Regions from separate parts of the Homo sapiens genome. Here region 2 is linked to region 1. A link means that fine-mapping ties the variant in region 1 to the expression of a gene that starts in the linked region. Tissue or cell type: sun-exposed skin. Region 1 holds a variant in brackets; the other region holds the start of a gene. All regions are shown on one strand. Distances are from middle to middle.

Region 1 (5,144 bases):
CCTCCGTCCAGCCATAGCTGGGGCTGTGGGTCCCATTTCCCTCTGGGTCCCCTCCGTTTTCCTGTGCTGTGGTTTCCTCCTTTTAGCTGTCATGTCCCAACCTTGATCCCCCTGGGGCATCTGGTCCACCCCTGCCCATGAGGCCTATGTCCATCCCACAACTTATAATGCTAACAAGCCGTTTGGGGCCTCCCGGTGGTCAGCAGGCCTGAGCCAGGGGTGACAGCAGGGCCCTCAGCCACCTGGTCCCTTGGCACGGTCTGTCAGGGCTTCTTGCCTAATCAAGGGATGCATTTTAATTTATGCAAATGGGGGAGGGATGGTGGCAGGGAGTCACAGACATCCATCACCCCATTTCCTAGCAGCAGTCATTCATCAGTGGGGCCTTAAAGATAATACACTTTTTGTTTCAGGCAATTACTTAATCTTGACAAACTCCTGTGTTAAGCAGGGCTATTAGCGGGGTCCATCATTAATCAGCGCAGAACCAAGTGGGTGCTTTTTCTGAACTGCAATCACTCTTGGGGACCCGGGGTGGGCCCTTTGCCATCCTCGCCGCCCTAATTACACAAGCAGCATGCTAACAACCAGCATCCCACACGTGTTGCAGGGGCGCCAAGCCACGGGCAGAAGAGGGGCCCATTTTTAACGCCAGTCAGAATGTTTTCGGAGCCAGGCAGAATGATACATGGGGGTTATTAGCAGCCACCAGGAACACAGCTGGGGAAACAGATAACTCCCCTCCCCTGGGTCCCTCCCGGACTTGCCTCTGACTTCGCTGGGTACCTGGGCAGCACTTAGATGCCGCTGCATGGCAGACCCATTCTGTTTTAAGGGGTTACATTTCCTTTTGGAAAGACCACGAATGAAGTGAAAATACCAAGGCTGGCCTTGTGTTTCCTGGAGTTTGTTGGTGCTCCACCTCCTTACCAGGGCCTGGGTCACAGAGTACTGCTCCCTCCTCCATCACACACCTGTGACCCTTATTACACCAATGCCTGGCCCAGGCTGCCCTGAGGGGGAGTGGGCACCCAGGAGAACAGGGGATGAGTCGGGCAAAGACTGGGACCTGGGCCTTCCCCCGGCCTCATTTCTTCTTCCTGGTCCAAGAAGAGCTCATACCGCCCTACCCTACCCCACCCATGTCTGGAATTTCAGAGAAATGGGCATGAGGTCTGGCTGTGACACAGATTAGCCATTTGACTGAACCAGGGCAAGTTACTGAACGCTCCTGTGCCTCAGTTTCCTCATCTCTAAAGTGGAGATAATAGTAACAATACCTTCATCAATTGCTATGAGGATGAAATGAGTTAACAAATGCAACATGCTCAGGAAGGCTCCAGTGTGAAGGAAGCCCTGTGCACTGGCTGTTAGAACCACTGCGGTTTCCAGTCTCCAAGGAAGGGCCAGTGCGTGGCTGACTCCTAGAAACTGCTCTGTCTCCTACTGCGGCCCCGAGCAGCATGGCTTTCTCTCCTCGGTCCTAAATTAATTTAGACTGACAGTCGGTAGCTACTGGCCACCCTTGTTATCCTCGGGTTCTGTTTTCCAATAGTGGGAGGATTCACTCATTCATGTATTCATTCATTCACTCACTGGGCACATACTCCTCACCTCCTCCATGCCACTCGCTGGGCTGGTCGTTGACTCAGAGGAAATGGTGTGGAGGGAGTATCGTCTGCCTGCGGTGGAGGGGGGTGGCAGAAGAAAGGTCCAGGAAGCTTCCTGGAGGCAGGCTCGTGTGGACTGGGGTTGCTGAGGGCAGGCTGAGTTGGCATGATGAGGATGAGGGGGTGTGGTGGGGAGGGGCTTTCTAGGCAGGGTGGAGCCTAGGAGGCATGGGGTCTGCAAGGCTGTCATTTGACCCTGGGGCTGGGAGAGTCTGTGGGGCAGGATCTGGAGGTCCTGAGTGCCAGGCTGGGGCTCTTGACTCCATTCTGCTGGCAATGGCAGGACCTGGGGACCACCTGTCAGTCACTCAGACCCTCCTCCTGGTCCCCCTACTGAGGTGTGACTGGACCCACAAAGCAGGGCCTTTGCCCACAAACGCCTCGGATGAGAGTGCACAGGCCAGGCTGCTCTTGGGTTTGTGGAAGGGCAGCTCTGGTTTCTCCGGCCCCGAAACACATTGTATTTGGGAGTTTTCCCCTAGATCTTAAACCCTGTTTATTTAAAAAGAAGTAGACTCTGTCTGCTTTTAATTCACATGCTTAGCTCATCAAAATATTGTTTTGCAAGAGGTTTTTTTTTTTTTTTTTGATGTCAGGAAGGCTTTGGCATGTTTTCCTCCTCCCTTTCTTCTACAGTCTTATTCTAGGAAATAAGATTCTGGGCACCGCTCAGGGCTGGAGGGTTGGGTCATGAGACCACATATTCTGTGTCTCAGTTTCTGAACCAACAAAATAGGGGAGCAGGCTCTTCCCACGGATTCATGGACTGGCCTCCAGTCCTGCTGGTGGACACCGTATCCCAGCAAAGAGAAATACTGTTTCCATGCGCCACAGTGGTCGTTGGTGGGGAGAGTGGGGAGGGTGGTGGGAATGGCATGTGCTCCAACCATCATTCAGTTAACTGGGTCCAGAATCACACGGGCAGGGAGCCAGGCGTCCGAAAGTGTAACACGGCTTGCCCGGTGTTTCTCCACGGTCCTGCCGCACTGCCCCTCATGACCCCGGCATGGGCTTTGCTTTCTGCGGACCCTCTTATTTGTCGAAGATCTCGGGAGTCCACACACCCACTCCCGTGTCTGGGAACACTCCAAGCTTATCAAGAACGCAGCGGGCAGCAA[T/C]CCAGGGCAGAACAAGGGAGGTGCTGTCGACCAGCTCTGCGCGGAGAGGTCAAGGGTGTGGAAGGGTGGGGAGAGAGGCACAGGCTGACTTAATCCCTTGGGCGGGGCACCGGCCTCACCCACAGAATCGCAAGTAACCCTCCTACGATTCTGGGAACGTTTGTGAGTTAAATGAATGGAAGGGAGGGAGGAAAGGAGGGAAGAAAAATAACTGTGTTTTCATCAGTAAATGTAAGCGACCAAATAGAAGTCTGTAGGAAGCTAAGATTCAAAGGTGAGGAAGGACTGAGGTTTGGGGAGAATTCTCATCACCATATTTTGTGTATTGATGGGACTTTTACTAAGCTAGACTAGAATTCTGAAGCAGTGGAAAGTCAATAATGATAACGAGTTAGGCCTGAGCTGTTCAGTAGGGTAGCCGCGAGCTGTGTGTGGCTGAGTGCTTGCAATGTGGCTATCCTAATTGAGATGTGCTGTGAGTGCAAGATAGGTACCAGGTTTTGAAGACGTAGTAGGAATAAAAGCATGTAACACATCTCATTAACAATTTTTTTACTGGTTCCATGTTGAAGTGATAGTATTTTTGACGTACTGGTTCAATTAAATTGTGTTATTAAAATAATCACCTGTTTCTTTTTAGTTTTTTTTAAATGTGGCTCCTAGAAAATTTACAATAACATATGTGGCCCACATTGTATTTCTGTTGGCCAGGGCTGCATTGGATGAGTGGACACCTAGGGAAGATTCTAGTCCAAGGTAGAGAGAATTGTAAAGGATCCCTTTGAGTAACATAATTATTGGGACTGACAAGAGGCTCCCAGAAAGTGGCCCTTACGGGACCTGCTTGGATGAAAGAATGGAGAGCATTTTGTCATTCCCCTGTTGATTGCAGAAAGACAGTAAGTCCAGCCCCAGTGCTCGTTTGCTTGTCCAGGTGGCTGATTCCGCTGCCCGGTTTTAAAGGTCATTGATTGTCTGTGGCAGGCCCTGCCTCAGAATGCAGCCTGGAATAAAGAGGTGCCTTGGCTCAGCCTGGGAAACCATCACCAGGGCCTGGTGGAGACCAAATGTGGTGGCCTTACTGTCGTCTCAAGAGCTATGGCAGAGTGCAAAGCTGGGACTTGATGCTCTCGGCAGGACGCAAGGCAGGACCTATAAGCCAGATCAAGAAACCTCTTGTTGGGCTCTGCAGGGAAGGGGCTGGATGCTAGTTAAGTACACAGAATGGCAAGTGACACCTTCACGACCCGTGGGGACCAGACAGAGGAATGGCATGGTCATCCTCCTGAAAGGGAGAATCACCTGCGACAAGTGGGCTTCTTGCCGGGGACCAGTCAGCATTGCAATAGCTAGCCGACAAGGTCCCTGCCAGCTGACGGGGTCGCCAGTGTATACTGTCAAATGAGTATGTCAAGGGGCAGCAAGATTTTAGGGGAAAGCCTGAATCCATCCCAGGCCACCTGGCCTAGCCCTGGCCTGTGACAGGTGGAAGGAGCACTAGGGCCTGGGCACCGTCTCCTCCAGCTCCTGGGCTGGATTCCTGCTTTCTGCATTGGATTCTGCAAGGTGCCAGGGTCCCTGGGAGCCATGGTCCTCTGGGCTTCAAATCTATTGCATTTTGCAGTGGGGAGGCTGCACACTACTTTTTTAGAAACCTTCTGTGACCAAGACAGAGTTTTCAACCTTAAGCAAGCTTGACCAGCCCTATTGTTTCTTCCAGCCCTAAAATTCTCTAATGTGGGACTCTACATGTCTACCCAGACAGACAGGCAGCCCCTCCCATTCCTTGTGATGGCGGGGATCTCCCAGGTGTCCCTCTGGAGCTCACCCCAGTCTCCCACCCCTTGCTAAAGGGGCAGGAGCCCAGCAGAGGGGTCTGTAGGGATGGCCACACCGGCACCCTTCGGGGCCCTACTGCGTGCCTGGCCCTGCACTAGCTCTTCTCCACTTCACAGTCTCCCTCTGACATGGGTCCTGTCCCTATCCTCATTTTACAGATAAGGACACCGAGGCACAGGAAGGTTCGGTGAGTCAGCAATCAAGCCAGACTTGGCTGTGGCACTGGCGGCAGCCTCAGCTCTGTCCAACAGGACACTATGCCGCCTCTTGTGGCCTGTCTCCTGTCACTTCAAGGCCACTGTTGCAGGGAACAGATCCCATGACTGCCTGGCTCCCGAGCGGCCAGACCCAAATGGCACGGGGCTGGCCTCTCCCGTGGCGTTGGCTGGAGCACACTCCTCACCCTGGAATGTGCAGGTCCCTCTGCATCCCTACCTGCCCTCACCAGGAGACCAGTCTCAGAACTCTGTGCCTGGTGTGGAGTGGCTGTGCTGGCCCCAGCCCAGCACACTCTCTC
Region 2 (5,144 bases), 180 kb before region 1:
GGGAAAGGTTATGTGAGTGCCTGGAGTCCAGCAGGAGTTGAGCTGGTCTGAGAAGAAAAACAGAGAAGAAGGAAATATCCTAAAACATTGATTTGTTTAAACTTCTTCACAAACTTTACAACACAAGGAAATCAACAGAGACAAGCTCATAATGAAGTAATCAGCCAACGCGGCTAATATTCCAGCAATGAGAAATGATTCCCTACATGTCATGGGGCAGATATGAATAGGGTCATTAAAATATGGCCAAGGAGGGGAGGGAGAGTTTACTTTTTCTGTCTCCTTAGAGTCTGTGTTCTGAAAGCTCAGCAGGAATTTAAACAAATAGCACGGAGGAATGGTGAATCTGATCATCTTTAAAGAAAAAGCCCCTTTCAAACTTCTCTTTAAATCATTGGCTTATGCAAGTTTCGCTTTTTAAAAATGCTGCCGACCTTTTCCCCCCAAACAAAATTAGCATCAAATTGTTCTAATATTTTTCTGCATATTTTTTTCTCTAGGTCAAGAAGAAATTGTTGCTCCATCATATAAGTGAATGTCAGGAGGAGGAAGGAGGATCTTAAGGAATGAAGTTCTAATGCATCCTCTTTGATTAAAAAGTAAAAGAATAAAGTTAGCAGAGGATAAAAGGTATATGGAGAGAGCCACCCACAAAAAGGGTTGCACCGGTGAAATGGGCCTGTGTAGGTCACATCCCCTCAGGGAGGGTAGCATTGGGTCCCTTGCATTTCAAATAAAATGCAATTTTAGGAACAGGGGCTGAAGGGAGAGACACTTCCACCCACCTCAACAGGGCAATTTTTTAAAAATTTAATTTAATTAATTTATTTTTTTGAGACAGAGTCTCGCTCCATCACCCAGGCTGGAGTGCAGTGGCGCCATCATGGCTCACTGCAACCTCCATCTCCCAAGGGGTTTGAGAGATTCTCCAGCCTCAGTCTCCCAAGTAGCCGGGATTACAGGCGCGCGCTACTATCCCTGGCTAATTTTTTGTATTTTTAGTAGAGACGGGGTTTCACCATGTTGGCCAGGCTGGTCTTGAACTCCTGACCTCAGGTGATCCCCGTGCCTCGGCCTCCCAAAGTGCTAGGATTACAAGCGTGAGCCACCGCGCCCGGCCCAACAGGGCAAATTTAACTGAACTTACAGTACAACCACCCGAAGCTCTGGGAGGATGGCAGAGTGCTCTGACCTTAGACTAGTTACTTAACTTTTTAAAGCATCAGACTTCCCACCTGTAAAAACACGAGAAGAGAACCTTCCTTACAGAGCTGTGAAAGTCCAATAATACAAAGAAAATATAACATCACCTGGCACTTGGTAGAGTGTTCTACAAACGTTAGGAAGAATAAAACCAGAAATTCCCCCCAAGACCCTCTTCGGGTGAGGCCCAGGGGCCCTGGAGAGGGTGGCAGGCCCGGGGGTGTGGGGAGGACACTTTAGCCAGCTGCCCCCAATTCTCCTCCAAGCCTGGCGGCCCAGTTCCGGGCTGTGGTGTGGCTTGAGGGCCCAGGGCTCCTCACTGAGCTTGCTTAAGCAAGTTCTTTCACACACAGCCCCATATACACTTTGGCTAGAAAATTCAATGAGGAGTTTTTTCTTCCTTCTTTCTCTGTTGTTGTTGGGTTCTGATTACTTCCATCTGGCTTCAGCGGCTCGAGTGGAGTCTCTAAAACACACAACACAACAAAACAAAAACCCACCCTGCAAGCCACATGCACCAAACCTAGAAGGCTGCTTCGTTTCTCGCCAGCGTGTGCTCAGATGGCGACGAGGGCTAGCGGCGGCGGGGGACGCCTCAGGACCCCCGGCACCTGCGCTCGCTGCCCGCGGGAAGAGGGTCCGCGTGGACCCAGCCCCCGCGTCCCTTCTCTGGCGTCCCCGGCTTCCGCGCGGGCGTCCAGAGAAGCGGGCGCCCTGGGAACAGCGACCCAGGCATCTCCCCGAGGAGGGAAGTGGGAGGTGGGGAGGGCGGGGGGATTTCAGAGATTGAAAACAGAGCAGCCCTTGCCCCTCAGCTCCGGAGCTCATCTGACTTGAGTTAGCGACACCCCCAACCCCCCCCCCCACACCTAGTCGTCTAAAAAAAGTGTCGGAGATTGGCGCGTCCTTTGGTTCCTTTCTCGAACTTTCCTTGTAGGTGCGTTTTCTTTCCTTGGTGCTGGGTGGGGAGAGTCCCTGTGCTCCCCCTTTCCCCTCCCCCCGCCCCGGCGGCGTTCGGGTCCCCCTGCGTCCCCCGGCAGGGAGCGGGCGGGCTGGCTGGCGGGTTCTTGGGGCCCGGGTGTGCCCGCACCGTGCGCGCGGGGGCGCTGCGCAGTCCGGCGGCGCTGATGGATTGCAGAAGTGCCGGCGCTTGCCAGCCGAGGCAGCACGGCTCCGCGGACTTTTTTTCAAACTCCCATCAATGAGACTTCGAGGAGGAGCGGGCGGCGGCGGCGGCTGCGACTGCGAACGCGGAGGAAGGCCAGGAGCCGCAGGAGGAGCCGGAGGAAAGAGCTTGGGCCGCGCGGCGCGCCGCAGCCTCGGGGAGCCGCCTGCTCGCCGGCGGTAGGGGCTGCGCGGCGCCCGCCCGCCTCTCGGTCCCCTCTCTTGCCTGGCCCGCCCCGCCCCGGCTGGCTGGAGCCCCGGCACAAGGCAGCCAGCCGAGGGTCGCCGCGCCAGCCAAGGTGGGATGGGGGCCCACAGCCACCGCCCGGCGCCCGAGAGGCCACCTGCGTGCTAGAGGCAAACTTTTGTCTCTCTCGGTAAAGTTGCATTGGCCTTCTTTTGCTTGCTTTTCGTGACGAAGCGCCTCCCACCTCGGCCAAGCGCGGGCCGACTGGGATGCTGCGCCGTCTCGGGGGGTCCCTCGGCCGGGTACCGGCGCCTAGGCCTTGGGATCGGGGCCCTGGGCTTCGGGGGACTAGAGGCTAGTAGGCGCGACCCCGCCTGGGGCTCTGGACGAGCAGGGCGGGGACGTAAGGAGAGTCCTGGGGCTTGGAGCTCGTGGCCAGAGGTCGATGTTGCACCCTCTCCCTACCTGGGGGAGAGCACCACTCTTCTCGGGGTGCACAGCGAGCCGGCCTCCGCGCGCCGGCGGGGGTCTGTTTTTTCAGGGGGTGGAGGGTGGGATCGGAGGCTGGGATGCTCCGAAGCTGCCGTAGGTGGGCATGGGAGCGTGTCTGCGGGCGTACTGAGCGCGGAGGGGCTGCAGCCAGCCACTTGAGAACTTCGAACTCCACTTCTCCGCGCTGCGCGTCCCGGAGCCCTGCCTTTCTTTCTTCCTTCCTCAATCCTTCCTCCCCCTCGCCCGGCCCGGCCGCCCCCTCCCCCTCTGCTGGGCTCTCCTCCTCGGCCCCCCCTCTTTGCCTCTCTTCTCCTCCTCTCCTGCCCTCGGCCCTGAGATCCGCTTGACTTCCCAAAGGGATCCGCACGTAATCCTTTGCCGGGTCCTCCGGTTCCCCCTTCCACCTCACTTTCATCCCTGCCCCCCTACTCATCGTCTCTCCCCACCCCCGACAATCTCTCAACAAGTATATTTGCTGAGGAATTTGAAAAATCCACTACTGCAACTTGATCTGTATGTGATGGATGGGGAGAGGCGCGGAGAGAGTTGGGCGCCAATCCTATTAAGGGTTTAGAGAGGGGAGTCTTTTCCCCGGACGGGGCGGGGGCGGGGAGCTGGGAGGGAGCGTGTGCTTGCGTGTGTGAGTGTGAGCGCGCCCGCCGCGCTGGAGAGCTGGGAGTCCACCCAGCTCGGCGCCTTTTCAGCCCGGCGGTAACTGCTGTCATTTCCTAGGAAACCCGACTTTTACCGCGCGGGGAGCTGGGGATGGAGCCCGTGCGCCTCACCCTGGGTGATCGGTCGCTGAGGCTCTCGGGGACCTCGAGCCCCCCCGAGGGTGCCTCTTTCCACTACCTTCTCTTTTGTGTAATTGTTCTGTGGCTCCTAGAGTTGATCCCAGCTGGAAAAGTAGACCTGTCCCTACTGTCTGGTCCCGCGCCCTGGGAGTCTTGTAGGCGTCCCTCTGTCCCCCAGCCCGGGCATCCCGCTCGGTGCGCGACCTCTGGCACGGGCTTTGCAGCTCGGTGGCCGCAGCGGTGTCCCGGGCCCCCTCTCCGCCGCTCTTGCCGGGCGTGTGAAGGTTTAATCCCGACAGCTTCAGATAAAGGGAGCAGTTGTAAAACGCTCATAGGCTGTTTGCAGACGAGGCTCTGGGGGATGTAGGAGAATTTGAAAGTAAACGTTTCCCTCGCAAGCAGCATAAAATAGTGTTTAAACAAATATTGTATTGGCATGCTCAGGGGGCTCGGTGCCAAAAAGTAAAGTAAATAAACTGTGAAATCCAAAATATACAGCGGGGAAAGCGGAGGAATAGGCGGGTTTGTCACAGGCCTCCCTGATGAGACCAGTTTGTTCCAGCCACCTCACCTGCCAGCTTTCTCTCCGCCCATTTCCTTACCTTGCTGGGAGTTCCCTTGGCTGGGTTTCCCTGTGTCTGGGGACAGGCCCTCCCTGGGGCCTGGGAACGGCTTTGCAGTTGCTTGTTTAGGGGGAAGCTCACGGTGTGGCTACCTGGGCCTGACTCCACAGGGACGGGGGGCACCTTGGCTATGCCTGGCTGCTTTGAGTTTGGAGGCTCTTTATTTAGGCTTTTCCCAGCTTCTGGTCTGTCCTGGGGCAGTCATTCTAGAATGTGGAATCCAGATCCATCAGGGGCCTTCTCTTCTTTTTGACTATGCTTCTTGTGCCTCTTTCTTCATCGTTCTTGCTTTTGTTTTCCTAGACTTGCTGCTTCTCTCTTGAGGGTTACAGGAAATTGTGGAGATGTTTTTCCCTGGGATTCGAATTCCACTCAAGCCCAGCCATATGGAAAGTTGTCGCTTGTCTGATGAGTTTTAAAGTTAATTATATTTGGTAAGATTTAGGGTGGTTTTATTTTCTCCTCTGCTTCGAGAAATATGCCAGTTTCACGAAATTGTTTCGTGATTTTAGGGGATTTAAGCTAATACAGGGAAGATCCTGCATTTGAAAGAGCCCAGCTGCCCAGGAGGTATCCCTCAGGTGAACCAGCCTTCAGTTGGGCTAGCATCTGAGTGAGAGACTGTGGTCAGAACGGTCTATTTGCAAAGCCTCTTGGAGAGAATTAGAATTATAGGTAGAA

Alleles and levels. Positions count from the first base shown, and alleles are read on the strand shown. Sizes are in standard deviations (SD) of each study's normalised expression.
For the expression in sun-exposed skin of the gene that starts at base 2,327 in region 2, allele C in region 1 goes with a lower level than allele T (small effect, 0.26 SD a copy in GTEx).

Evidence for each region. PIP is the estimated chance that this variant, and not a neighbour inherited with it, causes the effect.
Region 2: GLI2 starts here. The variant in region 1 is fine-mapped to the expression of GLI2 in sun-exposed skin (GTEx, PIP above 0.99). The same link has a PIP of 0.9 or more in esophagus mucosa and unexposed skin.

What each region holds. Positions count from the first base shown.
Region 1 is chr2:120,910,034-120,915,177 of GRCh38, forward strand. All of the region lies in intron 2 of GLI2 (GLI family zinc finger 2), which reads left to right. Among named protein-coding and RNA genes, the nearest start is that of GLI2, 180 kb to the left of the region's middle. RefSeq lists enhancers at 1,275-2,218, 4,510-5,144. The variant T/C (reference allele first, on the strand shown) is at 2,789.
Region 2 is chr2:120,733,542-120,738,685 of GRCh38, forward strand. GLI2 (GLI family zinc finger 2) reads left to right here and starts at 2,327. Exons shown (of 14, transcript NM_001374353.1): 1 at 2,327-2,744. It overlaps LOC124906073 (a long non-coding RNA gene), which reads left to right. Exons shown (of 3, transcript XR_007087219.1): 3 at 501-1,309. LOC124907881 (a long non-coding RNA gene) reads right to left here and starts at 4,120. Exons shown (of 2, transcript XR_007087221.1): 1 at 3,020-4,120; 2 at 1-47. RefSeq lists enhancers at 956-1,603, 2,243-2,412, 3,531-4,031, 4,032-4,532, 4,939-5,144.